4 linked regions of the Homo sapiens genome follow. The protein of the gene in region 3 purifies or fractionates together with the protein of the main gene of each other region. This does not show direct contact. Each region holds a gene or a part of one and is shown on either strand. Other genes may lie near its edges.

Region 1 (7,417 bases), about 76 Mb from region 3:
ATTTGCAAGCACACTGGGAGGTACAAGTTACTCTAAGCCACTAACTACTGTTTATGAAGTTCTATGTGGTCTGATCTGAGCTCAAGCGTATTGCAAATTCACTTAATCTATGAACCATTATGGAAAGTGTGATCAACCTGAGCCTTACTACTGAAAAAGTTAAATTCATCCCATTTTTAAAATATTACAAATTAGGTATTTTCTGGACAGGGCCCTAGCTATGGTCTCTTCCTTGACCTATTGTAATAGAAGAATGTTCCCACTGATCTCATGTATGTTTATATTAACATTTTATTTATTTAAAATTAATCGCTGGGCTAGCATAGAGACAGAATAAAATTTCACCCAAAAACACTTCACCATGAAAGATACGTATTATTTAATAAAGATCATCTTTGTGCACACAGCAATTGACTACTGGCCACTATATATAAATACTTATCAAGTATGACAGTAAGAACTCAGAAAGACCAGAATTATGAAACCTGGCCATATTTTACAATAAGATGTTTATCCAAACAATAGATTACACAACTTTATTTGAATTCTTCATAAAAAGTAACTTTCTGCACTCCAGCCTGGGCGACAGAGCCAGACGCTGTCTCAAAAAAAAAAAAAAAAAAAAAAAAGTAACTTTATATTTTATCCCAATTATATGGTAGTTTTAAAAATTATTTACTGATACAAATAAAAGCCAAGCACACCTGGAACATGGAATATACCTGCATAAGATGAATAGCAACTATGGATAATGTAGGATTATCTATAAGACAATTAAGACAATGCTCTGGCCGGGCGCAGTGGCTCACGCCTGTAATCTCAGCACTTTGGGAGGCCAAAGCAGGTGAATCACCTGAGGTCAGGAGTTTGAGACCACCCTGGCCAACATGGTGAAACCCCATTTCTACTAAAAAAGCAAAAAAACAAAATAATTAGCTGGGCATGGTGGCGGGCACCTATCATCCCAGCTACTTGGGAGGCTGAGGCAGGAGAATCACTTGAACCCAAGAGGTGGAGGCTGCAGTGAGCCAAGATCACACCACTGCACTCTAGCCTGGGTAACAAGAGCGAAACTGTCTCAAAAAGAAAAAAAAAGACAACACTCTGTAAAATGTACAGCAGGTCTATCAGCAGGGAAGGGAATGGGAAGGTGAAGCAGGGAAAGTAGGGTCTGAAAATATGTAAAATATCCTTTCCTGACTAGCAACTGTGGCTGACACTTAAGGCTGGGAGTTGGATATAACCTAAAGCCTTAAAAAAAAAAAAAAAAAAAAAAAAAAAAAAAAAAGTAGCCCATATGCCCCAGGAAGAAAAAAGTTTGGGTGGCATAAAGAATTTTTTCCCTTGCTTTTATACATAAAAAAAGAAAGAATATTTTTCCTAGTTGTTATTTTTTCTAAGATTAAATAACACAATTACTTCTCAAATTTGAAATGATAAAAATAAAATCTCCGGCCAGCCGGGTGCAGTGGCTCATGCCTGTAATCCCAACACTTTGGGAGGTCAAGATGGGTGGATCACCTGAGATCAGGAGTTTGTAGACCAGCTTGGCCAACTGAAACCCCATCTCTACTAAAATACAAAAATTAGCCGGGTATGGTGGCACACGCCTGTAATTCCAGCTACCTGGGAGACTGAGGCAGGAGAATCACTGGAACCCAGGAGGTGAAGGTTGCAGTGAGCCAAGATCATGCCACTGCACTCCAGCCTGAGTGACAGAGAGCAACTCCGTCTCAAAAATAAATAAAAATAAATAAATAAAATCTCCCATATGAAAATGTTTTGAAAAACAAAGCTGGTGGACATTAAACAAAACAGGTTATTGTTAGTATTATTACTTTCACAGGAATTTATACATGTTAACTCTACTACGAAATACCAGGACAGACCAACAAAATTTTCACAAACAAGCATCCAGTAAATTCAGTAAAACAAATGGTACCCCATTTGGAAAGAATATAGTAAAGTTCTATGAGAAAAAAAAACCATACATATATGTAAAGAAAGTTCTCCAATTAGGAATAAGTGAGGAACACTTATTTTTAATTAATTTTTTTAATCCAAATTACATAAACACACTTAGGATAAGTTAGAATTTGGTAGTTCATTTACTCTTTTTTTCCCTTAACTAAAGTGGAGCCCTTGTTACCTTCTCTAGAGTCCAGAGACAAAGTATAAGTGTGTCCAAGCTGTGGTCAGAGATGACAGGTGCAGCTTGAGCAGGTGCCCCTAGACCAGATGTCACCTGGAGGTTTTGTTCTGGATGTAACCCTGACCAATATGTTCATGCCATGTTAAACTAGTCATCTCAGCAACTAAATTGGTTTCATTACAATACTTAGATCAACTGTTCTCAAACTTCAGTGTACTTAAGAATCACCTGGAGCACTTTTTGGAAATACATATTAATCAAATTATTAATACCTAAAACCACTGTTCAATCTTAGCATCACTAAAAGGGGACAACTAAACATTATATGCCTCATGATATGATGAAAAGCACAGCAGTACCTATCAAGTATGCCTAAAATATTAAATCTGAATATTATTAACCTTTAGATCTATCACTTTTCAGCAAATATGTATGAGGGATAGAGGAACAAGTTAATTGACACCAAAAGAAAGCAATCAAAGCCAGAATTTAAGACAGTCTAAAGAACAAATTGACCCCTTTACTCCAAATCAATGGTATAATGGGGAAAAAAAGGGCGGGGGGAGAGGGAAGGCAGCAGCCAAAACATCAAAACCAGCACATTCTCCCTGGGGCTCCACCAAAAATTTCTATGGCAGTAAGATGGGAGTGAAGCCCTGTAAACGCTGACTTAGATATTCATGGAATATGGGTCTATCATTTTTGGTCAACAATTCAGAATGTGATAGCTATTCCTGGACATCACTAAGAGACTTCCATTCCAGCAATAGTTTATTGCAATGTATTTAGTCAAATGAATTATCAATTCACAACATAATGAATACACAGAAAGTATCCAAGCACAAGTGAAATTTATGTTTTAAAACAGAAAAAAGTTTGTTATTTCTTTTATCACATTATAGTTTAAACAGTAGAAAATGTATAGTTGTGCATCTCTTAGGTTGGTGCACAAGTAATTGCAGTTTTGGCGATGGTGTTACACTATTTACTGTGGGGTGAAACACTGGTGAAACACTATTTACTATGGGGAAGGGAAGAGAAGTAGTAATGTTTCCCCAAAATGTCTAGAGATCCACAATACACATTAGCAAAATAAAGTCTCTAAGAAGTCCTGCAATAAAGTAACCCAAGTTTAGCCTTTTGCTCAAGTTCATTTCGTCTTCTTTTCATGGAAATATATTAACATTTCTGGAAAACTAGTGTTTCTAGAGTACAAACTCTAGTTGGCCCTGAATACCAAAGACTGTGGTGATCAAAGCAGCAAAAGGAGAATCCCCTCAACCCCATCCGTCTGCTCCATTTATCCTCTATGTCCTTCCCAATTCAGACAAAATCCATTTTTATCATTAAACTTTAGTAGGTCTGGAAAACACCCAATAAGCACCTTCACAATATAATTAAAACTTTTAAATACTTTACCTAAAAATATATATTAAGTACCTGCTCACTGACTAATGAAATGCAGTTAAAACTGTGTTTTTCCTTCCTTTCCAACTTCTAATTTCATTCAGTTTGAGAATATAAAATATCTAGTAGCAATATACTTTTTTTTTTTTTTTCAGACGGAGTCTCGCTCTGTCACCCAGGCTGGAGTGCAGTGGCACGATCTCGGCTCACTGCAAGCTCCGCCTCCCGAGTTCAAGTGATTCTCCTGCCTCAGCCTCCCGAGTAGCTGGGACTACAGGTGCATGCCACCACGCCTAGCTAATTTTTTGTATTTTTAGTAGAGACAGGGTTTCACTGTGTTAGCCAGACTGGTCTTGGTCTCCTGACCTTGTGATTCGCCTGCCTTGGCCTCCCAAAGTGTTGGGATTACAGGGCGTGAGCCACCACGCCCGGCCACAATATACTTGTCTATCAAAGACGTTATAGATTTCACACGATCAACTATGAAAATACTGAATCCACAACAAAGCAGAGATAGGATTATGAAAGAGTGCTTCTATTCAGGGACATTTTTAGTTAACAGCTAAGGTAGAAAATTTAACTGCAAAAAAAAAGCATATAAACATTTTTGGGAATTATAATGTTCTCATTTTGTATCCTCAGGAAAATTTGTAACCTCAGTGAAAACTATCTGTCTTAGAAAGAACTCAATTTATTTCTACTTTGGGCAATTTAAGCTCTAAAAACATGGATTCTAAGACATAACACTAACCTAGCTGAGCTTTGATAAGTCTTTCAACTTTCTCCACTTTCTGCTCTTCCTTTCAACAAGTCTGCATGTCCTTTAAAAACGTAACAGAATATCAGAAAATATCAAAATCAGGTTTTTTGTTTTTTAAAATGGATACACTGCCAGGCTCAGTGGCTCACTTTTGTATCCGAGCACTTTGGAAGGCTGAGGCACAGTGGCTCACTTTTGTATCCCAGCACTTTGGAAGGCTGAGGCGGGAGGATACCTTGAAGCCAGGCATTCAAGACAAGCATGGGCAACAAAGCAAGACCCCTGTCTACACACACACACACACACACACACACACACACACACACACACGATACAGTTTATAAAGTTAAATTTGAAATACATGCATGAATAACTTATTGATATATTTGTCTTCCAATCTCCATATACTTTTATTTTCCTTCCTTGAATAAGAAGGGCAATCAGTTTATTCAGTTCCGTTTAGCAATTTACAAACTCAGTGCTTATATACCTAAGGCTTTCTCTTAAAAGAATTGATCTATATGGTGGACACTAACTAGAGAACACATGAGTGTATTCATTCAATTTAACTAACAAATGTAAACTCCCTCAAATGGTGTAATTTAAGAAAGAGCTTTACCCACCAAGAAAAAAAAAATAGAATAAATTCACAATGCGATTGAAAATGTACTATGGTAAACATAACTCTACAATTAAGTTTCTGACTATTCTAAAGGTAGGTACATATAAATAGAAATGAATATTTCAGTGCCAGAAAACTAGTAACATATAGTTTTGTACAATAAATTTTTAATGTCCAAGATATTTCACCCCCTTTCCAAAAAAATCAAGTTTTATAAAGGAAACATCAAGTTAACCTTGACTATAGCTGTAATATTGGCATCAGTAAGCAAAAACAAAATTTTAAAATATTTGAAATATTTACCTAAATCTTCATACCAAAACTTCAAATTCTTAACCCAGATAAGACCAGCAAACTGTCCCCCAATTTCAACAACAAAACAGAACAAAAAATTAAAATCCACCAAGTAAATATGGAACACATTAGGCAAAGAGATACTTGGGCATAAATTTAACCATAAGTAATTTCCAAATATTATTGAACACGTCATGAACACAACATTTTGGTCCAATTAATGAAATGTTCCCTAAGCCATTTAATTTTTTTTTTTTTTGCACTTTAATATCTCCATCTACAAAATGTGGGAAACTATACCTTATCCTTTCATACTATAGGAATATCCTAATAATAAACATTGGTGGAACACATTGAGATGTACATGCCAAGAAAAGGAACTACATGAAAATAAAGTGCATAAACATCACAGATGATTAGTATCCAATTTTTAATTTATTTATTTTATTTTATTTTATTTTTTTGAGAAAGAGTCTCACTCTGTCGGCCAGACTAGAGTGCAGTAGCACGATCTCCGCTCACTGCAACCTCCGACTCCCGGGCTCAAGCAGTTCTCCTGCATCAGCCTCCCAAGTAGCTGGGATTACAGGCATGAGCCACCATGCCAGGCTAATTTTTCTATTTTTGGTAGACACGGGGTTTCACCATGTTGGCCAGGCTGGTCTCAAACTCCTGACCTCAGGTAATCCGTCTGCCTCGGCCTCCCAAAGTGCTGAGATTACAGGCGTGAGCCACCGCACCTGGCCTCCAATTTTTAAATAGACTGCTTTTACACATTATCTGTAAGCACTTTACTTTTTTTTAATTTTTAATTTTTGTGGGTACACAGTACGTGTATATATTTCTGGAGTAGGTGAGAAACTTTGATACAGGCAGGCACTTATATTTGTAAAAATTAAATGCCAATGTTAAAATAATCAATTGCATTTTCAATTTTAGACTCTAAGAAATTTTTGTAGACAAGCTATAACTGAATAAATGTATATTTGAGAAAATTAAGTTAATGTCTGGCAGACCATTAATACTCAAGTCTATATTTAATGACTGTCAATATTTGTATCAAAAATAACAAAACACTATTAAAATATACATGGCCAGCATACTAGCTTGCTCTTCCTAATTTAAATTATCTGTAATATTATGAAGATATATCATAAAACACTAGGCTAACAGCCATCCATCCAATTAATAGCAAACTTACAGGGGAATGTGAGCAAATATTAAACTTGTAAAGGAGGAATAACACATATAATGACAGTCTTACAATAGGTCAAATGAAAAAGCAGTTCATATTAAAAAATTATTCCACTTGTAATTTAAAAAACACACTGCATTATCTGCTCATCAGTAATGATGATATTCAATCTGACGTAGCAAAGAGGTAACTTATCAAGTCACTCGATTACTATTTCTTACTATGAAGAGCCAATCTTATGGGTAGGTAATAGAATTGCTGTTACTTGGCATCTTGTCTGCCAATTAAGATTTTTCAGAGGAAGGTGTAAAAGCTAGCATCATATATATCCTCTTACTGTGCAATATTAGACCACCAGGAAAAAATTCTTTCAAGGTTGGTAGTACCTAAGTTTTGACCAGCATATTTCTTTTGTATTTCTTTACAAGCCATGCAAATCTTCACATGGTTTTATTTTCCAAAACAAATGCTTCAACTTTTTTCCTAGTAGCCTAGCTACAACCCTGCAAAAACAAACCTAGAGAGTGACATATGGAGGAAAAACAAGTTTAACTAAGGACATAGTTCAAAAAGCAGCTTCTAATAAGAGCAAAAAGCCCAATTTGATCTGAAGACCATGTAAATACTTACAATGTTGAAACTATATAGTTAAAAACAGTACCTATAATTAATGATATCCTCCCAAGATAAAAATGACAACTGGAAAAACAATATTTATAATTAACTTTTGTTAAAAAAAATTGGAAGCCTAGATATTAATTTGATTATGCTAAAACTATTAGTATGAATGTAAACTCTTCAGAAAAATATACATCTCATGAATCATGTATATTCTATAGTACTTTCTGGTTATAAAACTTAAGTCAATCAATCTAACAAATATGAAGCAAAACTTCAAAAATATGTATTTCAAACAGTCCAAAATTCAAATGCTTTAAACTGATAAAAACATAAAACCAGAATATGTATTAACATGTTCCTCTCAAT
Region 2 (7,417 bases), on a different chromosome or scaffold from region 3:
TCTTTAAGTAATATGGTTTTAAAAGATTGGTGCCTGTTCCTCTACACCCCCTTCTTCCTGCAATTTCCCTACTTTTATAGAATGTTTTTTCTGTCCTAGTTTTTGTTTATATGGAGTGTTTCTCTTCTGTTGTAATGGAAAACTGAGTATCTTTGCTGGTGATTTGGGTTCACCTAGAGTGCCTTTGCTGGTGACCTCTGAGAATAAAATGTAGCTAATATGAGTGAGGAGGTTCTAGAAGTGTGATGTCCTCTAGATTCCATGCAGAAGGTTGTTCCAGAGCTACTTCCCTTCTGGAGTGGGACCTCATGCTTCCTAGAACATGGACAGCTCTCTCTTACTGGTGATTCATCCTTGGAAGCCCATGCTCTTTGTTAAAGGAGTTTCTAAGTTGCCTGGTGGATTTGGGATAGAAAATAAAATCTAGTCAAGACCTGACATTGAGTTGCATTCTGCTCATTGGCAAGGCTCTTGGTGCTCATTGCCTTGGTCTTCATAACTGGGAGGTCTTCAGTCTTTCCAGGGAGGTGTGTTTCCCTCTGGGTGTGTTTCCCTCTGGGTGTGTTTCAGTCTTCCCTGGCCTCACCCCTTCACTCTCTGACTCTGGCAGGCTCGGGGACCAGTTCTACAAGGAAGCCATTGAGCACTGCCGGAGTTACAACTCACGGCTGTGTGCAGAGCGCAGCGTGCGTCTTCCCTTCCTGGACTCACAGACTGGGGTGGCCCAGAACAACTGCTACATCTGGATGGAGAAGAGGCACCGAGGCCCAGGTGAGCTGCGCCACTCCTGGGACATGCGCATGTGCAGGCTCCCAGCCTGGAGGGAGGAGGACCGCAGCTTGTCTGGGAAACCAGGCAGCCTGGGTAGGATCGGGGTGGGGCAAGCTGCACATGGGCCTCTGAGATACCTTAAAGAAGCTCAGCTACTTTTATGGCTCCTGGCAGGTGTTTCAAGGAATGTGACAAGGATGGTGTGGGGCATTGAAGCCATGTGGCAGGGGTGGGGTGGGGTGGGGAGTGAAAGAGCTAAAGGTGTTTATCCCAAAGAAGGCAAGACTGAGGACATGACAGCAATCTTCATCTTTTACCTTTGGGTGTTGGTTACAAGCCGGAAATCTGCCATTAGATCTGGGTGTGAGGCTTACCTTTGTCACCAAACTTCTGTCCCTCAGGTTCCTCATCTGTAAAATGTGAATAATAATAGTACTTACCACATAAGATTTCGTCTGAATTAAATGAGAAAATTTATAAAAACTCTTAAATGAGTTTAGCACATAGCAAGTATGTGCTTCCAAAATGCTGGGTATTATTATTATTATTGTTATTTTTTTTTTTTTGAGATGGACTCTTGCTGTGTTGCCCAGGCTGGAGTGCAGTGGTGCGATCTCGACTCACCGCCTCCCGGGTTCAAGTGATTCTCATGCTTCAGCCTCCTGAGTCGCTGGGATTACAGGCGTGCGCCACCACACCCAGCTAGTTTTTGTATTTTTAGTAGAGACGGGGTTTCACCATGTTGGTCAGGCTGTCTCGAACTCCTGATCTCATGATCTGCCTGCCTGGGCCTCCCATAGTGCTGGGATTACAGGCGTGAGCCACTGCACCTGGCCTATTATTATTGATATTACTGTTATTACTACAGCTACAGTGACACTAGTCTTCTAGGCTGCAAAGAACAGAATAAAGACCTTTTTATTAGGGAGACAGCTACAGGAATGTGATTTTTCTGGCTCTGCCTGGATATGTTTTTAAAAATGTTTCATTTGGAAAAATTTCACCTTCATATAAAACTGAAGACAATAGTAAAACACATCCCCATGTAGCCCTGCTTCAACAATGTTCAACTCATGGTCAATCGTGTTTCATCTATACGCACTCCTTACTTTTCTCCCTGACCTCATTTTATTTTGAAGCAAATCCACAAAAGCACGTGATTTCATCTGTAAATATTTTGTTATGTATCTCTAAATGGTAAAGAACTTAAACAAACAAACACACTCACAATCACTATCAGAGCTCAAATAATTAGCAATAAGACTTTAATATCATCAAATATTTGGCCAACATTCATTTTTCCCCCTGTAGTTTAAATCAGGATCCAAATGGGAACCCTACATTGCAACTGGTTAATGTGTCTTTTAACATCTCTGGGTTTCTCTCTGTCTCTGCCTCTCTCTCTTTCCTCCTTGCATGTTACTTGTTGAAGACACTGGGTTGCTTACGCTGTAGGGTTTCCCAGAAGGATTTGGTTGCGTTCCCATGGTGTTATTACTGTGAATTGGTAGTTAGGTCTAGAGATTTATTCAGGTTCCATTTTTTTTTGGTAAGAACAACTCCTGAGTGGTAGTGTGTACTTTCATCAAGAGGCTCATACAGTCTGGTTACCTCTTTTACTGATGTTAGCAGCCCTTCATGATAATTGCCTAGATTCTTTATCCCATTAAGGGTTGCAAAAAGTTAATATTCAATCCAGGACTATCATTATATCTTCATTTGTTAGCTCTACAACTTCTATAAAGAAAAACATTCCCTCATTAAAATTTTAGTTATTGTGAGATACAGTTCACATATGAAAGGCAGGATAAATGACTTTTTTCCCCTCTATTTACCAGTTTTCAAAATAATGAGTTGGTTCCCTAGCATTCTCCAAAGACGATCAATATAATAATAATTATTTTTTTGAATACCACCAGGAACTCACAGATTTAAACATATTTGATGTATTTTAATCCAGTGTAGCTATTATTCTTATGAGGCTTATCTTGCCTCATCTCTGGCCATTCAGGATTCTGGCCAGTGCTGATGTGTTTTTTTTTTTTTTTTTTTTTGAGATGGAGTCTCACTCAGTAGCCAGGCTGGAGTGCAGTGGCATGATCTCGGCTCACTGCAACCTCTGCCTCCCGGGTTCAAGCGATTCTCCTGCCTCAGCCTCCCGAGTAGCTGGGACTACAGGCACATGCCACCACACCCAGCTAATTTTTGTATTTTTAGCAGAGATGGGGTTTCACCATGTTGGCCAGGATTGTCTTGATCTCTTGACCTCATGATCCGCCTGCCTCGGCCTCCCAAAGTTCTGGGATTACAGGCGTAAGCCACCGTGCCCGGCCCAGTGCTGGTGTTTTGAAACAACCCCAGTAGTTTCTGATGGCCTTCTTGCCATCCTAATATTAGGATGAAATATTTCAAGCTCATCCTGTACACTTCCTCCTCTCCAGGACTGAAATCAGCTATTTCTTGAAGAAATCCTGGCTCCTGTTTGTAGGAAAAGTTACTTAGAGACCGCAGTGCTGTTCATTGCTCCTGGCTTGGTCATTGTTTCTAGGCCTTATCAGTGACTAGAACTAAGAAATAGTATTCATTTGTTTTTTTCTTTTTCTTTTTAAGAGAAAATACATTATGAAATTATGTTGATACATCCCATTCAATTTAGATTTAAACAGTTTTTACTTAAGTATCTTAATTCTGTATCTCCTTTCTCCTACACCAAAAAATCCTAGAAATGATATTGATGTAATTACTTATTTGCTTTATTTTACACACACACACACACACACACACACACACACACACACAGACACTCACACACAGTATCAGAACAAACAATATGACTATTAACAATAAGATTACTGAAAAAGGTTTAAGATATTTTCTTTTTTTTGCAAGTCTTTTTGTCCTTAGGGTATATTCCATTAAACATGTGCAGCCAAATTACTCTCCTTTAAGGTCACTGAGATAGTTCCTCTGTGTGATTGTGCCACTAACTCAATACACAGTTGGATTTATTTGTTTCATTTTGCTTTCACTTATCAGGGTTTGCTTTTTGAGTGGGGAGGGGATTCATATAATTTCTTCTTTATTAAATCAACTTTTATCTTGAAATAATTAATAATTGCAATTGTGACTGTATTTGCAATTTGCAGTTGCAAATATAATAGAGATCCCCTATCTTCTTCATCCAATTTCCTCCAAGATTAATACATCTTACAATATCAAAACCAAAAAACTGACATTGGTAAAATGTGTATATGTAGCTTTATGCCATTTTATCACATGTCTAGATTTGTGTAACCACTTCTACAATCAAGATACAAAACTATTCTATTACCACCCAACACTCATTATTTAAATCCTTTTACCCTCCTCCCTTTATAATATAGTTGTCTTAAGCATTTCCTTTACATACATTGAAAACCATACCAGTGTTATAATTTTTACTTCAACCATCAAACATAATTTAGAAAACGTAAGAGAAGCGTTTATTGTATTTACTCATATTTTTACTCCTTCGTTGTTTTTCTTACTTACTGAAGTTCCAAGATTCCTTCTTTTAGCATTTACTTTCTGATGTAGTACTTTCTTTAGCCATTCTTTTAGAGTAAATCTGATGGTAACAACTTCTTAGTTTTCCTTCAGTGGAGAATGTCTTGATTTTGCCATCATTCCTGGAGGATATTTTTGCTGGATATAAAATTCTGAGTTGATAGTCCTTTTATTTTAGCAGTTGAAAAAGGTTTTGCCACTTCTTTCTGATGGTTAGTGATGAGAAATCTGCTGTCATTTAAATGCTTTTTTCCCTTATAAGTAAGGTGTCATTTCTCTCTCATTGTTTTCAAGTTTTTTCTTTGTTTTTAGTTTCAGAAACGTGATTTTGATGTGTTTTGCCATAGATTTTTTGGGTTTATTCTGTTTGAGTTTACTCAGCTTCTTCAACCTGTGGGTTTATGGGGTTTTTTTTTTTTTTTTTTTGCCAAATTTGGGAATTTTTCAGCCATTATTTCTTTGAATACTTCTTCAGTTCAACCCTCTTTCCCCTCTCCTTCTCGGACTTCAACAACACAAATGTTAGATCTTTTGTTATAGTCCCATAAGTCCCTGAGGCTGTGTTCATTTATTTTTAAAATTCTTCTCTCTGTTGCTCAGCTTGGGTGATTTCTATAGTTCTCTCTTCAAGTTCATTGCTTCTTTATTCTGTCCTCTGCCTTCTGCTGTTAAGCCAATCCATTGAGAGCTTTTTTATTTTTTGTTACAATTTTTTTCAGTTTTCAAATTTCTATTTGGTTCTTCATATTTTCTATTTCTTTGCTGAATGTGTTTTATGTGTTCATAATTGCTCGTTGAAACACTTTTAATGATGGCTGCTTTAAGATCCTTGTCAGATAATTCTAACATTTTTGTTATTTTCTTGTTGGTGTCTGTGTCTTTCCTCATTTGAGATTTTCCTGGTTCTTCATAAGATGAGTGGCTTTGACTGAATCTTGGACATTTTGGCTGTTATGTTATGAGACGCTAGATATTATTTAAATCTTCTATATTAGCAGGTCTCCTTTCAAGCTATGCTAGTAGGGGAGGCGAGGCTCCCCTTATTACTGTCAGATGGATGTGGAAATCCATCTTCTCTACTTGGCTTCTGTTGACATCCTCTTTAACAGGGGAAGAACACCTTGTTGTTGCTGAGTGGAGGTGGGAGTTCAGGCTCCCCACTAGGCCTCTACTGGTATTATCCTACTTGGGAGGAGGAGGGCCTCTACTGATACCACAAGGCACCAGCTCTTCCCTTGGCCTTCTCTGACACCAACCCAGCAAAGCTATTGGGATGCCTGCTTGTCTTGCTAGGCTGGTCCTTTCCTGGTTCTCTGGCTAGAGAGAGCAGGATTTTCTTGAGGTCTTTTTTGGTCTTCATTTGTTGGTGTTTCTGGGTTATCAGCTTTTCCAGAATCCAGTCCAGGATATATGAGGCATAAAGGAGACCCAAGATCGGGCTGGACACAGGCTCATGCCTGTAATCCCAGCACTTTGGGAGGCCAAAGGAGGAGGATTGCTTGAGCCCAGGAGTTCGAAACTAGCCTAAGCAACATAGTGAGACCTTGTCTCTATAAAAATTTAAAAAATTATCCAGGTGTGTTGGTGCGTGCCTGTAGTCCCAGCTACTTGGGAGGCTGAGGTGGGAGGATTGCTCAAGCACAGGAGTTTGAGGCTGCAGTGAGCCAGGATTGCGCCATTGCACTCCAGCCCAGGCTACAGAGTGATACTTTGTCTCAATAAATAGCTAGCTAGCTAGATAGTTAGATAGCTAGATAGATAGGTAGATAGATAAAATAATACCCAGGGAGCTCACCACCCACCCTGTTGTTTCTCAGGTCCCAAAGTCCCTAGCTGGTCTGACTGGTTCCCTTCATCTTTCAGTTATTTCTTATGTCTGTTCTATGAATAATGTCCAGGATATTTAGTTGTGCTTAGTGAGAGGAATATAAAAAAGTGTATCTATTTCATCTTTCCAGAAGCAGAAGTCCCTGAGATTGCCTTGTTATTAAAAAAGTTTAACAGCTTTATTGAAGTATAATTACATACAATAAATTGCACATACTTAATGTGTCCAGCTTGATAAGTTTTGACATATATTCACCTGTGGAACCATTACCACAATCAAGATAATGAACATATCCATGACTCGCAAAGGTTTCCTATGTGTTTAGAAATCTATCCTTCCTGCGCTTCTCCATGCCTCTACCCTTCTTTACTCCCTCCCCAGAGAAGCCATTGATTTGCTTTCTATACCAGAAACACACACTGTATACTCCCTTTTGTTTTTTTTTGAGATGGAGTCTCGCCTTGTTGCCCAGGCTGGAGTGCAGTGGCGCAATCTCTGCTCACTGCAAGCTCCGCCTCCTGGGTTCACGCCATTCTCCTGCCTCAGCCTCCCCGGCTAATTATTTTTGTATTTTTAGTAGAGATGGGGTTTCACCGTGTTAGCCAGGATGGTCTCGATCTCCTGACCTCGTGATCCACCCGCCTCGGCCTCCCAAAGTTCTGGGATTACAGGCGTGAGCCACCGCACCCGGCCTGTGTACTCCCTTTTTTAGGGACAAGGGCATGTCTGGCTTCTTTCACTTAGCATAATTACTAATTAATACTATATCAATAATTCCTTTTTATGCTGAGTAGTAGTCCATTGCATGGCTGTATCACAGTTAATTTATCCATTCACCTGTTGATGGACATTTGGATTTGTTTGCAGTCTTTGACTACTATAAATCAAGCCACTATGAACATTTGTGTACAAGTTTTTGAATGGACATATGCTTTCCTTTCTCCTTGAGAGGTTAACTACCTAGGAGTAGAACAACTAGATCATAAGAGAGATAGATGTTTCACTATTAAAGAAACTGCCAAGCTCTTTTCCAAAGTGGTTGTACCATTTTACATTGACTCCAGCAATATATGAGAGTTCCACTTCCTTTGTATCCTTGCCAACACTTGGTGTGGTCAGTTTGAAAATTTTTTTAGCCATTCTAATAGATATATAGTAGTATTTCATTGCAGTTTCAACTTGCATTCCCCTAGTTAATAATGATTTTGAGCATCTTCACATGTGCTTATTTGCCATCTGTGAGGGAAAATAAACTGTTTTATTCTCTATACT
Region 3 (7,417 bases):
GACTGAGTTTGAGTAAATACGGAAGGCAGTCCAGGCAGGGGGGAATGGCCCAGGCAAAGGCCTATGGGGCAGACTGTTCTTGATTTGGGATGGAAATGAGAGGGGTCTCTGGAGGTAACTGGCCTGGGAACCACGAAGTTGGGAGAGCACTGTCTGCTCGGGGCAGTTGCCAGCCATCACAGGACAGCGCCTCGCATTCCCTCTAGTGGTGGAAGTCGGGATGGCGCCACCCCTCCTGGAGCCCTCCTGGAGCCCCGCATCCCTACACCAGGCTTTCCTAGCACCGGGGACCCCTGTCACCAGCAGCTCCACTCACCAGAAGCCTCTCCAAGCGCAGAGAGAACCTGCGCTTTGGAGTCAGACAGACCTGAGCTCCATTCACAGCTCTGAGGTGAGCCATGTGAAGTGGCTTCACCTCTCTGAGCCTGTGCCCTCACTTGTACAGAGGAGAGGTTAAAAAGATCAACTCCACAGGCTGAGTAGGAAAAATAACGGAGATGCCACATGTGAGGCATCAGCCCAGGGCCTGGCAGATGGTCAGAGGCTCAGGAACAGAACCACAAAGGTGGGGAGAACGTGCCTAACTGTGGGCACCACCACACCTGCCCCAAAACACAGTGCCAAGCCCTGGGGGGGGCGCTCGGCCCAGAAGACACAACTTGCAGGCCGGGCGCACTGGTTCACGCCTTAACTCCAGCACTTTGGGAGGCCCAGGCAGGTGGATCACCCGAGGTCAGGAGTTCAAGACGAGCCTGGCCAACACGGTGAAACTGCGTCTCTACTAAAAATACGAAAAAATTGGCTGGGTGTGGTGGTGTGCACCTGTAATCCCAGCTACTCGGGAGGCTGAGGCTGGAGAATCGCTTGAACTCACGAGGCAGAGGATGCAGTGAGCCAAGATCACACCACTGCACTCCAGCCTGGGCGGCAGAGTGAGACTCTGTATCAAAAAGAAGAAGAAGAAGAAGAAGAAGACACAGCTTGCGGGATCCCCCCGTCCACCGCTCTGAGGGCCAGACTCTGGGGCTGGAGTGGGAGGGGTGGGGACTGGTACAGCAGCCTCCCCAGGTCTAATCTGGGTCCTTCTACTCCCAGGGGCTCTTGGTCCCAGAGCCCCAGCACGGTGGGTAGCAGTGGACAATCTCCCTCCCCATGGTGGGAGGAGCACGAATGGGTGGCCCACCCCAGGGGACCAGCCCTCCATACTCACGTCATCAACCTTGGGCTCCGTCACAGGGACCCATTTGTAGATTCGTAGGGATGTGTCACCAACGGTCACCCATTTCTTCTCCCTGAGGAGGATGAGGAAGAGCCTGTTACCGGGGACTCTTCATCCCTGGGGGACACAGGCCACACTCCCTTGGGGCTGAGAGCAAGCTCCAGATCACACAGATGAGGGTTGGAATCCCAGCTCCACCCTCACTAGCGGGAGGCCCTGGGCAGGCCACATCACCCATCTAAGCCTGGTTTCTCCACCCGTTACACCACATAGGGTGGTTGCCCTCTCCAGGCTGTCGCCAAAAAGGCTGAGGGTGGGGCTGCCATTACAAGGACTCCTATGGGTGGCACGAGTCGGGCCCAGGTTCCTCCTGTGTCACTGCCAATGCCACGCAGCCAGTGGACTGGGCCACCCGCGCCTGTCTGGGCAGCAGAGAGGGCTTCAGGCCAGCAGGCCGATTCCTCTCATGGGGGGTGGAGTCGTCACCAAGGACACCCCGGGGCTCCTCCTGCCCTCTGGGCGATGCGTCTGAGGTCAGGGGAGGCATGAGCAGGCAAGCCGGGGAGCCGCCCACACTCTGCCGGAAGAATGCCCTTCGTGGCGGCCAAGGAGAGCCAGGGAGTGGTGACCTCGGCCCGAAAGGAGGTTACACAGCCTGAATGTGTGGGTGCAGCCAGGTGGGAGGGGAACTGCACCCCTGATTCAGGGCTCCTAGTGACCCTGTCTGCAAGGTCACCCCAGCTGCATTACAAACGCCTGAAGGACGGAGTCCAGACCCCCCACTGTGAGAGGCAGGTTTATGGATGAGGAGAAACTTACAAGCCACAGAAGCAAACAGGACTGGTTTTCATTCGAGATAACAATGCCCACCCTCTCCTCCACCACCACCACTCTGCTCCGAGCCACTGTCATTTTTCCGATTATTGCTACAGCCAGCCACCTCCTGTCCTTGACCCCCTGCACTCCGACTTGTCCCTTACCGCCACGAAGACCCAGCAGCCACACCCCTGAGGGGACTGAGGCTCAGGAGAGCCTCCCAGAAGCAGGGCTGGGGTTGGAACCGAGGCTCCTAAATCAAGACTCTGCCAGATCAGGAGACCTGCGAGGCCACCAAGGAGCCACTGATGGCTCAGCTAGGAGGCTGGCGGATTTAAGGGGCCCAGCAGGCACTGTTGGGGCAGGCGCACCCCTGGTACAGGCGACGTAGCTGCCCGAGTCCTCAGCAATTTTGGTGACAAAAATTCCCAGAACTGAGAATTCTGTGTGGCACGAGCACCTCTGTCCGTGAGCTGCCTGGCACCTTTTTTTGGCCTCTCTGCCCAAACTCAGCCTTAGATCACCCCCTCGTGGGGCATGTGGCCCTCACATGCTGGTGTGACAGGTTACAGGACTCCCACCCTGTCACCACGGGGGTTGCGGGATGACGGAGCATACTCAAACCCAGCCAGCCGAAACCACAGACACCTCACCCCCAAAAACCCTGCCCGCTCGGGTCCCACGTGTTCCATCAGAGGACGCTACGGCCCGGCTTTTCTTATTATACCAGTGGCCATTCCTAGCGCCTTCTATGTACCAAGGACTGTGCCGGCTCATCCGGCAGGAAATGGCAACTTCCCCATTTGACAGATAAAGAAACCGAGGCACAGGGCGGTGAAGGTGAACTCATTCTCCCAGAGCCAGCACTCGAACCCTTCACCCAGCACAGCTGTTGAGACCAGCCTCTCTGCTCCCTCCTCCTTGCACCTTTTCACCCAGAAACGATGCAGGAAAGACGAGTGTCTAAGTCCACTGGCCCGTCTCCTGCCTCCTGTGGGCAGAGCAGACAAACCACAATGCCCACCTTTCCCCTCCTCAATTCTGAGCAATCAGAAGGTGTCCAGAAGAGACCGAGTGCTCCTGGGAAGAACCTCAGTTGTTAGAGCAACCATCACAATAGCCACTGTGTGCCCAGGCTATTACATGCCAGGCTCCACGCCAAGCACTCTACTTACACACCCTCTCTCCCTGGGATTCCCAACAGGCTACAAGAGGGGGACGATTGTCACCCTTTTTACAGATGCAGAAACAGGATGCCCAGAGAGGTTATACCACTAGCTTGGGGTCTCACAGACAGGAAGTGGCAGAAGAGAATTAGATTTGGGCTCGGACCCCAGACACCACCTCCTGCTATTCTGTTGGCCATGAAAACCAAGAATCATTCTAAAGGAGCGCCAGGGTAACAGAAGCTGGAGGAAGAATGACAAATTGCCAGGACTCCATGCAGATTGGCCAAAGCCATTCATTACTCATGAGCCCTGGACCAGCTTCCCAGTAAATCAACCCATTCAAGGTTTGATTGTGTTTGGGAAAAAAAAAAAAAAGTAATTGACTTGTAACACACAGGACACCTTTCAGGGCAGAAAGTGTGCCAGAGATCTGGGCTTTGCGGCCGCAAATCAGCCAAGATGCAAGTTTGCAGCTGCTTCCCAGCGAGGCTCGAGGCCACCGCAGGCTACAAGCTGAATGCAGCCAGGCTTTCGTGCCTCTCTTTGCCCCAACTGGCAACCTCTTCACCGAGTTCTCAAGTTACCCCAGTGATGAGAAACTGTATTTCTAGGTGTGGACATTGAGGGGACTCTGGGACAGAGGCAAGAACATTAAGAATTCTACCTCTGAGCTGGACCTATGCTCAGCTAAGCAGCCACCCGGAGGGGCCATGGAGCTCAAGTTTAAGGCACCAAGTGAGCACCCAGGAGGACATGGGATTTCACAGCCACAGACACACTGGGTGGGCACACGGGTTCAGCGGAGCAGCTGAGGTTTCCCACAATTGCCCCCCAAAACCATCACCACAGAACACATACCCCTCCCCAAAAAAGGGCGTTGCTCCTCTTCCCCAATGAGGGTATTAAGCTATACTCATCACTTTCTTATTTTTTTATTTTTTTTATTTTTTTGAGACGGACTCCTGCTCTGTGGCCCAGGCTGGAGTGCAGTGGCACAATCTCGGCTCACTGCAACCTCCGCCTCCCGGGTTCAAGCGATTCTCCTGCCTCAGCCTCCTGAGTAGCTGGGACTACAAGCACATGCCACCACGCCCGGCTAATTTTTGTATTTTTAGTAGAGACGGGTTTCACCATGTTGGCCAGGCTGACATCAAACTCTTGACCTCAGGTGACCCACCCGCCTTGGCCTCCCAAAGTGCTGGAATTACAGGTATAAGCCACTGTGCCCAGCCTATTTGTTATTTTTTTGAGATAAGGTCTCCCTCTGTTGCCCAGGCTGGAGTGCGGTGGTGCGATCACTGCTCACTGCAGCCTCGACCTCCTGGGCTCAAGTGATCTTCCTGCCTTGGCCTCCCAAAATGCTGGGATTACAGGTGTGAGCCACCACACATGGGCCCCACTTTATATTTAGGATGGCAAACAACCAGTCAACAGGCGTGTTTTGTTTGGCCTGCACAGTACTTTAAAAATGTTAAATCTGCTGCCAAACTTCAAACAAACAAACAAACAAACAACAAAACAGGCTTTGCATAAGAATCCAGACTTCTGGCTACTCTTGAAAACATGACCTGGGCCCACATGCCCCAGGGAGCGACAGCTTGCCCCAGATGGGCTCTCTGGCCCCCCTCAGATGCCCTCACTCTTGACACCTGTAAGCACCAGGTGCAGAAATCCCCACAACCACCAGGCTGCAGCCCAACTTGCTGCAAAGCTGGCCCTGGGTGTGCCCCGCGCCTCCTGTCTTGGCGGCCCCGTCACCTTACCCTGACTTCAACACCTTTCCCTTCCCATTACACTTGAGCTTCTGGGAGGAAAGGAAAAAATGAGGTCCCAGCAGTAGGAATATAGCCCCAACTGCTCCTCCCCAGCACGGACTCCTATATAAACTACAAGAATCCATCCCAGATTCTCCAGGCTAAGGCCAATTTCGAATGTTCTCCTGTGTCCAGGTCCAAGGGTTAGCCAACAAGACCATCTTAGGGTTACCCACCACTCAAGGGGACCCTGCTGACTCCCTCCAGGAAAGCTCTACTCCCTGTCCTTGTACTCACTCCTCATGGCTAGTCCCTGTCACCTCAAGAGGCCTGGCCCATGGCTGGCCTCACCCTAGCTAGGCCCAGGTCTGCCTGACCTGCCATGTGCCCAGTAGGAATGTCTCCATGATGAAACCTCTGGAGGAGCTGAGGTGAGGGAGGCCTCAGGCCCAAACCTCTACCTCTCCTGGGACAGACGGGAGCTCTTCAGGCACAGACCTTTCTCAGTCCTCACAGCAAGTCATTGAGGGAACCCTCAGACCAGGTGCTAAGGGGTCCTGGGCCTAAGCCTACTTTTTTTGTTTGTTTTTTGAGACAAGGTCTCACCCTGTCACCCAGGCTAGAGTACAGTGGCACAATCGTAGCTCACTGCAGCCTCAACCTCCTGGGCTCAAGTGATCCTCCAGGCTTAGCCTCCTGAGTAGCTGGGATTACAGACGAGGGTCACCATGCCTGTCTAATTTTTTTCTTTTTTTTTTTTTTTTTTTGAGACGGAGTCTCGCTCTGTCGCCCAGGCTGGAGTACAGTGGTGCAATCTTGGCTCACTGCAAGCTCTGCCTCGTGGGTTCATGCCATTCTCCTGCCTCATCCTCCCAAGTAGGTGGGACTATAGGCGCCTGCCACCACTCCCGGCTAATTTTTTGTATTTTTAGTAGAGATGGGGTTTCACTGTTAGCCAGGATGGTCTCGATCTCCTGACCTCGTGATCCTCCCTCCTCGGCCTCCTAAAGTGCTGGGATTACAGGTGTGAGCCAACGTGCCCGGCCTTTTCTCTTTTCTTTCTTCTTTTTTTTTTTTTTTTTTTTTTGAGATGGAGTCTTGCTCTGTTGCTCAGGCTGGAGTGCAGTGGCGCGATCTCGGCTTACTGCAACCTGCGCCTCCCAGGTTCAAGCAATTTTCCTGCCTCAGCCTTAAGAGTAGCTGGGATTACAGGCGTGTACCACCACATCCAGCTAATTTTTTGTATTTTTAGTAGAGACAGGGTTTCACCATGTTGGCCAGGCTGGTTTCCAACTCCTGACTTCAGGTGACCTGCCTGCCTCGGCCTCCCAAAGTGCTGGGATTACAGGCATGAGCCACTGCGTCCAGACTAATTTTTCTTTTTTCTTCTTCTTCTTTTTTTTTTTTGAGATGGAGTCTCGCTCTGTTGCCCAGGCTGGAGTGCGGTGGCGCAATCTCCGCTCACTGCAAGCTCCACCTCCTGGGTTCCCGCCATTCTCCTGCCTCAGCCTCCCAAGTAGCTGGGACTACAGGCGCCCGCCACCACGCCTGGCTAATTTTTTTGTATTTTTTTAGTAGAGACGGGGTTTCACCATGTTTGCCAGGATGGTCTTGATCTCCTGACCTCGTGATCCGCCTGCCCGGCCTCCCAGAGTGCTGAAATTACAGGCGTGAGCCACCGCGCCCGGCTCTTTTTTTTCTTTTTCTTTTTTTTTGGTTTGAGACCCAGGCTGGTCTCAAACTCCTGGGCTCAAGCAATCCTCCTGTCTCAGCCTCCCAAAGCTCTGGGATTACAGGCGTGAGCCACCGCAGCGGGCCTCCAAGCTTACGCTGCAGCCCAAGCTTTCGTCTCCTACCATCGCCCTGGGGTCTTCTCTCCTCCACCAGCACAGGGCCCCCAAACCCTGGCCCAGTTTCCCAAAAAGAGGCCCACCATTTTGTTTTCCCTTTAGCCATCTTCTGGTCACCTCACCTCCACTGGCCTGCCTTGCTGAAACACCAGAAAAAGAGAACAGGAGGCAGCCTGCCCCAAATGAGAGGGAGGCCACAGCTTTTTCCGGGGGTGGGGGAAGCATCAGGGGACAGTGGGTGGGTCGGGGGGGTAATTTTAGGGGTCACTAGGGCTGAGGAGAAACCCACCCAAGGCTCATGGGGCCAAATGATCTGCCAAACACTTCGGCTTCCCTCTGGGTAAAATACAGGGTGCCCTGTTAAATTTGCATTTCAGATAAATTAGATAATGTTTTAGTATAAGTGTGTCCCAAATATTGCATGAGACATACTCAAAAACATTTATTTTTAAAAAAATCTTTCATTGTTTATCTGAAATTCAAATTTAACTGGGTGTGCTGTATTTTTATCTGGTTAAACCTGGCAACCCCACCCCCCCACCAGTGGTGAAATGCATGGTTGGTGACCACACAATTAATAAACAACCCACAGTCTCATGGGCTGAGTCT
Region 4 (7,417 bases), on a different chromosome or scaffold from region 3:
TGACATGCCCGGCTAATTTTTTTGTATTTTTAGTAGAGACAGGGTTTCACCATGTTGGCCAGGCTGGTCTCGAACTCCTGACCTCAGGTGATCCACCTGCCTTGGCCTCCCAGAGTGCTGGGATTACAGGCTTGAGTCACCATGCCCGGCCATCTGCCTGTATTTTTTTCTGTGGGTGCCTGAGGGTGTCTGCCTCTGTATCTCCCCAAGGGCGTCTGGATGTCTCAGTGTCTGGTTGGAGCTCTTTCCTCTCTTAGGTGTATCTTCCCAGGTGTCTCCAAGTGTCTTAGAAGGCTTGTGTCTTGTGTATGTCTGGTCTGTCAGGGTGTCCGGCTCCTCCCGAGTGTGTCTGGGTGTGTTAGGCGGTGCGGCCGTCTCTTTCTGTGGGTGTGTGGGTGCCTCGGAGTGTCTGGGAGAATCTTCCTGATGGTGTCTGGCGTATCAGGTGTATTTCTGCACGTGTGTGCCAGTCCATCAGAGGATCTGGACTTACCCTTGAATGTGTTTAGGAATATCGGGATCCTCGGGGTCAGTTTCTCTTCCTGAGTCCGAGGGTCTGTGTGTACCCAGGAGCGTGGCAGTGCCCACCTGGCTGTGTCTCTTCCTGTCTGTCTCCTGTGTGTGTTTGTGTGTATCTAGCTGAGTGATTCTCCCTGAGTATGTCGGTATCTCCCCGCTATGTGTCCAAGCATCTCATCTGGCTGTGTCTTCCCCAGGGTCTAGGTGTATCTGGAGGGCTAATTGTTTCTTTCTTTTTTTCTTTTTTCTTTTTCTTTTTCTTTTTTTTTTTTGAGACGGAGTCTTGCTCTGTCGCCCAGGCTGGAGTGCAGTGGCGCGATCTCACTGCAAGCTCCGCCTCCTGGGTTCACGCCATTCTCCTGCCTCAGCCTCCCGAGTAGCTGGGACTACAGGCGCCTGCCACTACGCCCAGCTAATTTTTTGTATTTTTAGTAGAGACGGGGTTTCACCGTGTTAGCCAGGATGGTCTCGATCTCCTGACCTCATGATCTGCCCGCCTCGGCCTCCCAAAGTGCTGGGATTACAGGCGTGAGCCACCGCACCCGGCCTCTTTCTTTCTTTCTCTTTCTTTCTTTCTTTCTCTTTCTTTCTCTCTCTCTCTTTTTCTTTTCTTTCCTTCCTTCCTTTCTTTCTTTCTTTCCTTCCTTCTTTCTTTCTTTCTCTCTCTTTCTTTTTCTTTTCTTTCCCTCCTTCCTTCCTTCTTCCTTTCTTTTTTTTTTTCACCCAGTTTGGAGTGCAGTGGCACGATCTCGGCTCACTGCAACCTCCGCATCCCGGGTTCAAGTGATTCTCTGCCTCAACCTCCTGAGTAGCTGGGATTACAGGCATGTGCCCCTACACCCGGCTAATTTTTGTATTTTTTTTTTTTTAAGTAGAGATGAGGTTTTACCATGTTGGCCAGGCTGGTCTCAAACTCCTGACCTCAAGTGATCCACCCGCCTCAGCCTCCTAAAGTGTTGGGATTACAGGTGTGAGCCAACGCGCCTGGCCAGCTAATTGTCTCTGAGCATTTCTGAGTGTACCCATGGGTCCAGCTATGTCTCCTCCCTGTGTCTGGGTGTCTCCAAGGATCTGGCTATACCTCTTTGAGTCTCTAGGCTGTATCTGAGAGTGTGGCTTATGCCTGTAATTCCAGCACTTTGGAAGGCCGAGGCAGAGGATCGCTTGAACTCAGGAGTTTGAGACCAGCCTGATTAACACGATGAAACCCCATCTCTACCAAAAATACAAAAATTAGCCCAGTGTGGTAGCATGCCAGCTACTCTGCCTGTAGTCCCAGCTACTCAGGAGGCTGAGGTGGGAGGATCACTTGAGCCTGGGAGTCGCAGTGAGCTGAGATTGCGCCACTGCACTCCAACCTGGGTGACAGAGCGAGACCCTGTCTCAAAAAAAAAAGAAAAAAGACAGCATGGCTGGGCCTCTTCCTTCCCGCATCTGTCTCAGACGATCTGTCTGGATGTCCCCTGCGGGTGTCCCTGTGTCTCCTCTGCGAGTGTCTGGATCTGTCCATATTTGTCTGGGTATGTTTGAGAGTCGCTGTGTCTTCCCTGAGTAGGTCTGGGTGTGCCTGATGGCCTAACTGTGTCTTTTTCTGAGGCTTTCTGGTGTATCCAAAGTTCTGACCGTGTCTCCTGCTGTGCATCCCAGGGCATCTGAGGGCGTGACTGGGTCTCCCCAGAGTCTGGGCCTCCCTCCTAGGGCATGTGGTTAAATCCTTGCCTCTGCAGCCTCTTCCCTCCTGCAAAGAGCATGGTCCCCCCACCTGCATAGTTTGAGGAGTCCTCCGGGGTCAACTTCCCCATCTGACCCCCCCATGGCCCTGTCCCCAGACTGTGAAGCACCCCTGAAGAAGGAGGGTGGCCTCCCGGAAGGGCCGGTCCTCGAGGCTCTACTGTGTGCAGAGACGGGGGAGAAGAAGATTGAGCTGAAGGAGGAGGAGACCATTATGGACTGTCAGGTGGGCCCACCTCTGGGGGACCCCCGCTGCATGGCTTCGTCTCACCCCTGCCTGCCACCAGCCCGGGCCCTCACGTTCCTGCTCTGAAACCCCCCCGGTTTCTTCTGGCTGTTGGGCATCCCAGTCACCATCCTCCCAGACTTCATCTCTATTTGGAAGAACTCCTGACTTATACTCTCACCCCCAATCTCCACCTTTGCCCAGAGCCCCTCAAAAGCAGGTCAGTGGCCCCCACTTTCTTGACCCGTCTCCTTTCTCTATTGCCCAGAAACAGCAGTTGCTGGAGTTTCCGCATGACCTCGAGGTGGAAGACTTGGAGGATGACATTCCCAGGAGGAAGAACAGGGCCAAAGGAAAGGTATCACCCCAAGCTTCTCCTCTTCCCCGCTCCCCTCAATGACAGGTCTCATTCATGGAGCAGGTGCAGTGGTCCGCCCCTGCCACAGTCTGACCTCAGTCTGACCTCATTGAATCCCCAGAGCGGCCTGCAGGGGTGGGGGATTTTATACCCATTTTACAGATGAGGAAACTGAGGCTCATCTGTATTAAGCCATTTGCAAAGCAGAGATTATGCAGTGGGTTAGAGCTACCTTCATCCCCATGCCACAGAGGAAGAAGCTGAACCTTGGAGAGGTTCAAGGCCCCACAGCTAGGACATTTGTACAGCTGCAATTTGAATTTGCAAAAGACACTGTTTTCTCACTTTCTTTTTTCTTTTTTTTCTTTTTTTTGAGACGGAGTCTCGCTCTGTCACAGGCTAGAGTGCAGTGGCGCAATATCTGCTCACTGCAACCTCCGCCTCCCGGGTTCAAGCGATTCTCCTGCCTCAGCCTCCCGAGTAGCTGGGACTACAGGCACGCGCCACCATGCCCAGCTAATTTTTCTATTTTTAGTAGAGACGGGGCTTCACCATGTTGGCCAAGGTGGTCTCGATCTCTTGACCTCGTGATCCGCCTGCCTCGGCCTCCCAAAGTGCTGGGATTACAGGTGTGAGCCACCACGCCTGGCCTGTTTTCTCACTTTCTTGGCCCCTCACTCCTGACTCTCCCCACAGGCATATGGCATCGGGGGTCTCCGGAAACGCCAGGACACCGCTTCCCTGGAGGACCGAGACAAGCCGTATGTCTGTGATAGTGAGTCCTTCTGAAGAGGGGGAAAGGCAGAGAGAGGGGTGCCCAGAGACTCCCCACCTCGTGGCCCTCTCCCTCCCGTTCCAGACCCGGGTTGGGAGGCTGCTCAGGTCTCTGGCTGAGGGGGGAGGTGTGATCCTGGAGGCCAGGGTGGAGGCGGCAGGGGCCCGGAGGGGCTGACAGGCCCTCCTGGCTCGCTCGCTCCCCAGTCTGTGGGAAACGGTATAAGAACCGGCCGGGGCTCAGCTACCACTACACCCACACCCACCTGGCCGAGGAGGAGGGGGAGGAGAACGCCGAACGCCACGCCCTGCCCTTCCACCGGAAAAACAACCATAAACGTGAGCTGGCAGGCCAGGTGGGGGTGGCCAGGGGCCCTGGGAGTGGGGAAGAGGAGCCCAGCTGGGGGTGGGGGTGGGGGGGCATTAGACATTTCTGGAAAATCTCCAGCTCAGCCGTTCCCTCCCCCCACCGACCATGGGGATGCTGGCTCCGGGGTTGCCATGGCAACCAACCATCGCTCCTTCGCTCCTGGCCGGGCGTAATATTTCTGGGTCTGATTTATTGTTTCAATTAGAGCTTGGGGAGGGGGGGTGATAGATGGCTCCCCTCCCGCCCTGCCTTCCCTTTCTCCTTTCTCTGCTAAGCTTTGGTCAAGGGGCAGGGTCTGTGGCCTGGGAGCCCTTGGCTTCCGCCCTTGCCAATCCCATGCCAGTTCTGACAGCTGAAGGATGGGGGAGGGGAGGAGGGTTTGGGAGAGGCAGTAGGGAGACACTGTCTTCCCACCTATCTCTCAGAGGCAGAGGCTGAGTGTCTTCACCCCTGGCCACTACACACCCACGCACCTCAGTGTTCGGAGTTTTTCTTCCGAGTGTCTGTTTCCATACCAGATCTTGGCTGGGGTACTCGCTGAATTTGTTAGATACAAATTACTGAGGGTGCAGTTGGGAGTGGCTGGCTGGGAGACATGTATGTGAGAAGGGAGGCAGGGAGCCCTTCCTCAAGCTGTCTACCAAGTTTTGACCCAATAAAGAGGACATGTCAGTTGTCTCAAGGAGTTGGGAATCCTGGCTGGGTGCAGTGGCTCACGCTTATAATCCCGCCACTTTGTGGCAGTGGCCGAGGTGGGAGGATCACTGGAGGCCAGGAGTTGGAGACCAGCCTGGGCAACATACCAAGACCCTGCCTTTATTTTTAATTGAAAAAAAAATTTAAAAAGGCAGAGTTGGGAGTCCCGATGAGAACTGTTTTCACCTCTCCCCACAGCTTGGGGTAGCTACTCACTCTTCCCAGCTCCCCACGCCTGGACTAAGAGGTCCATCCTTGGGGCTGAGGCTGGGGGCAGGGTGGAGCCTTGCCTGTGGTGAGAGTCCCTCTCTCTGTCCCCCCTACCCCAGAGTTTTACAAAGAATTGGCCTGGGTCCCTGAGGCACAAAGGAAACACACAGGTACGGATGCCTCCTTCTGCTCCTAAAGTCTGCAGCCACCTTTGCGGGGTGCCCTTGCCTGCCCCGTGCCAATGCCTGTCTGCTGTCTTGCAGCCAAGAAGGCGCCCGACGGCACTGTCATCCCCAACGGCTACTGTGACTTCTGCCTGGGGGGCTCCAAGAAGACGGGGTGTCCCGAGGACCTCATCTCCTGTGCGGACTGTGGGCGATCAGGTGATGCTCCCCACCTGAGGTTTCTGGGGGCCGGGTGCAGAGGACATTCAGGAGTGCAGACCTGGAGGGAGGGAGGCAAGGCGGTGAGGACCGAGGGGACCCGGAGCATGTAGGGGATACTGTGGATAACCAGAGCTAGCGAGGCTGATGCAACTGCTGAGGATTGTGGGAATTGGGTCGGATCAGTGAGGCTTTAGGGATAATGGGATGTGGCTCTCATGGCACTGTGGGTAGCTGCCTGTGCTTAGCATGGCATCAAGAGTAGTGAGAGGCCAGGTGTGGTGGCTCACGCCTGTAATCCCAGCACTTTGGGAGGCAGAGGTGGGAGGATCACTTGAGGCCAGGAATTTGAGACCAGCCTGAGCAACATAGCAAGACCCCCATCTCTACAAAAAATTTAAAAATTATCCAGGTGTGTTGTTGTGCACCTGTAATCCCAGCAACTCAGGAGGCTGAGGCCGGAGGCTCCCTTGAGCCCAGGAGTTTGAGACCAGCCTGGGCAACATAGTGAGATCCCATCTATATATAAAAAAAGTTAGCTGGGCATGGTGTTGCACCCCATTAGCCCCAGCTACTCGGGAGGCTGAAGTGGGAGGCTCGCTTGAGCCCAGAAGGTTTTTGTTTTGTTTTGTTTTGTTTTGTTTTTTGAGACAGAGTCTCCCTCTGTCACCCAGGCTGGAGTGCATTGGCATGATCTTGGCTCACTGCAACCTCCGCCTCCTGGGTTCAAGTGATTCTTGTGCTTCAGCCTCCCGAGTAGCTAGGATTACAGGCACCCGCCACCATGCCTGGCTAATTTTTAATATTTTTAGTAGAGACGGGGGTTTCACCATGTTGGCCAGGCTGGTCTCAAACTCCTGACCTCAGGTGATCTGCCTGCCTTGACCTCCCAAAGTGCTGGGATTACAGGCGTGAGCCACCGCAGCACCCAGCCCCTTGAATCTGGGAGTTTTTGACTAGCCAGGGCAACATAATGAGAGCCCATCTATTAAAAAAAAAATAGGCCAGGCTGGGTGATGTGGCTCACATCTGTAATCCCAGCACTTTGGGAGGCTGGGGCGAGCAGATCATGAGGTCAAGAGATCAAGACCATCCTGGCCAACATGGTGAAACCCCATCTCTATAAAAATACAAAATTTAGCTGGGTGTGGTGGTGCGTGCCTGTAGTTCCAGCTACTCCGGAGGCTGAGGCAGGAGAATCGCTTGAACCCGGGGCTCAGAGGTTGCCATGAGCCAAGATTGCACCACTGCACTCCACCCTGGGTATCAGAGCAAGACTCCGTCTCAAAAAAAAAAAAAAAAAAAAAAGGCTGGGCATAGTTTCGCACCCCATTAGTCCCAGCTACTCGGGAGGCTGAGGTGGGAGGATCGCTGGAGCCTGGGAGGTCAAGGCTGCAGAGTGCACTGTGATGGTGCCACTATGCTGCAGCCTGGGCAACAGAGTGAGACCTTGTTTCAAAAACCAAAACAAGACAAAAGGAGTAGCAAGAGACAGGGGCCAAGGCATGGCAGGTAGTGGGCTGTGTGGTGTGAGTGACGGACACCACCACCTGGGCACCGGTAGCAGGATGAGCTCGCCATAGAGTTGTGGTTAACAGAATGTGGTTTCCCATGGTGGGCTTGTGGGCAATATAGACTCTGGTTGCCTCAGCACAGTAGGTCATGAATTGTGGTTGTCGTGGCATCATGGGTAGTGAAATATGGTTGTCATGGCAACTCAGTATAATGGAATGTAGTTGTGATGGCACCGGGGCCGTGGTTGCAGGGGGCGGGCGCCATGGGTCGTGGCTGCAGGTAGCGGCTGCGGGTGTCTCTGCAGCGGGGCTGTGGAATGACTAAGCCTGGCGCTGCACAGTGCTGTGATGTGAGTAACAGTTTTGTTGCTGGGGCACCAAGTGGAATGGACTTCAGTTGCATGAAACCGAAGTGTGGGGACCCCGTTGTGGAAGGTGGTTGCCATGGCATTGTGGCTGGGAGAGTGTGGTTGCCACGTTGCTGTGGTTAACAGGACCCCTGGCCGTTCTGCTGTGGGTAATGGAAAGTGGCTGTCTCAGCACGGTGGTTAACAGAATGTGGTTGCCACGGTGTTGTGGGTGGTAGAAAGTGGTTGGCACAGCACTGTGGGTAATGGAATGCGGTTGCCATGGCGT

What was found.
Region 1: the proteins of BCL7A (region 3) and ARID2 purify together in Homo sapiens (affinity purification with mass spectrometry; 4 studies listed by BioGRID and IntAct, with this or other methods). This does not show direct contact.
Region 2: the proteins of BCL7A (region 3) and DPF3 purify together in Homo sapiens (affinity purification with mass spectrometry; 4 studies listed by BioGRID and IntAct, with this or other methods). This does not show direct contact.
Region 4: the proteins of BCL7A (region 3) and DPF1 purify together in Homo sapiens (affinity purification with mass spectrometry; 4 studies listed by BioGRID and IntAct, with this or other methods). This does not show direct contact.

Annotation. Positions count from the first base shown.
Region 1 is NC_000012.12:45,732,651-45,740,067, reverse strand, and holds part of ARID2 (AT-rich interactive domain-containing protein 2), read right to left. Parts: intron 1-7,417. UniProt on the Homo sapiens protein: Involved in transcriptional activation and repression of select genes by chromatin remodeling (alteration of DNA-nucleosome topology). Required for the stability of the SWI/SNF chromatin remodeling complex SWI/SNF-B (PBAF).
Region 2 is NC_000014.9:72,765,087-72,772,503, reverse strand, and holds part of DPF3 (zinc finger protein DPF3), read left to right. Parts: intron 1-610; coding exon 611-771; intron 772-7,417. UniProt on the Homo sapiens protein: Belongs to the neuron-specific chromatin remodeling complex (nBAF complex).
Region 3 is NC_000012.12:122,024,575-122,031,991, reverse strand, and holds part of BCL7A (B-cell CLL/lymphoma 7 protein family member A), read right to left. Parts: intron 1,293-7,417; coding exon 1,211-1,292; intron 1-1,210.
Region 4 is NC_000019.10:38,213,990-38,221,406, reverse strand, and holds part of DPF1 (zinc finger protein neuro-d4), read left to right. Parts: intron 1-2,348; coding exon 2,349-2,476; intron 2,477-2,744; coding exon 2,745-2,834; intron 2,835-3,530; coding exon 3,531-3,609; intron 3,610-3,815; coding exon 3,816-3,947; intron 3,948-5,003; coding exon 5,004-5,054; intron 5,055-5,147; coding exon 5,148-5,267; intron 5,268-7,417. UniProt on the Homo sapiens protein: May have an important role in developing neurons by participating in regulation of cell survival, possibly as a neurospecific transcription factor. Belongs to the neuron-specific chromatin remodeling complex (nBAF complex).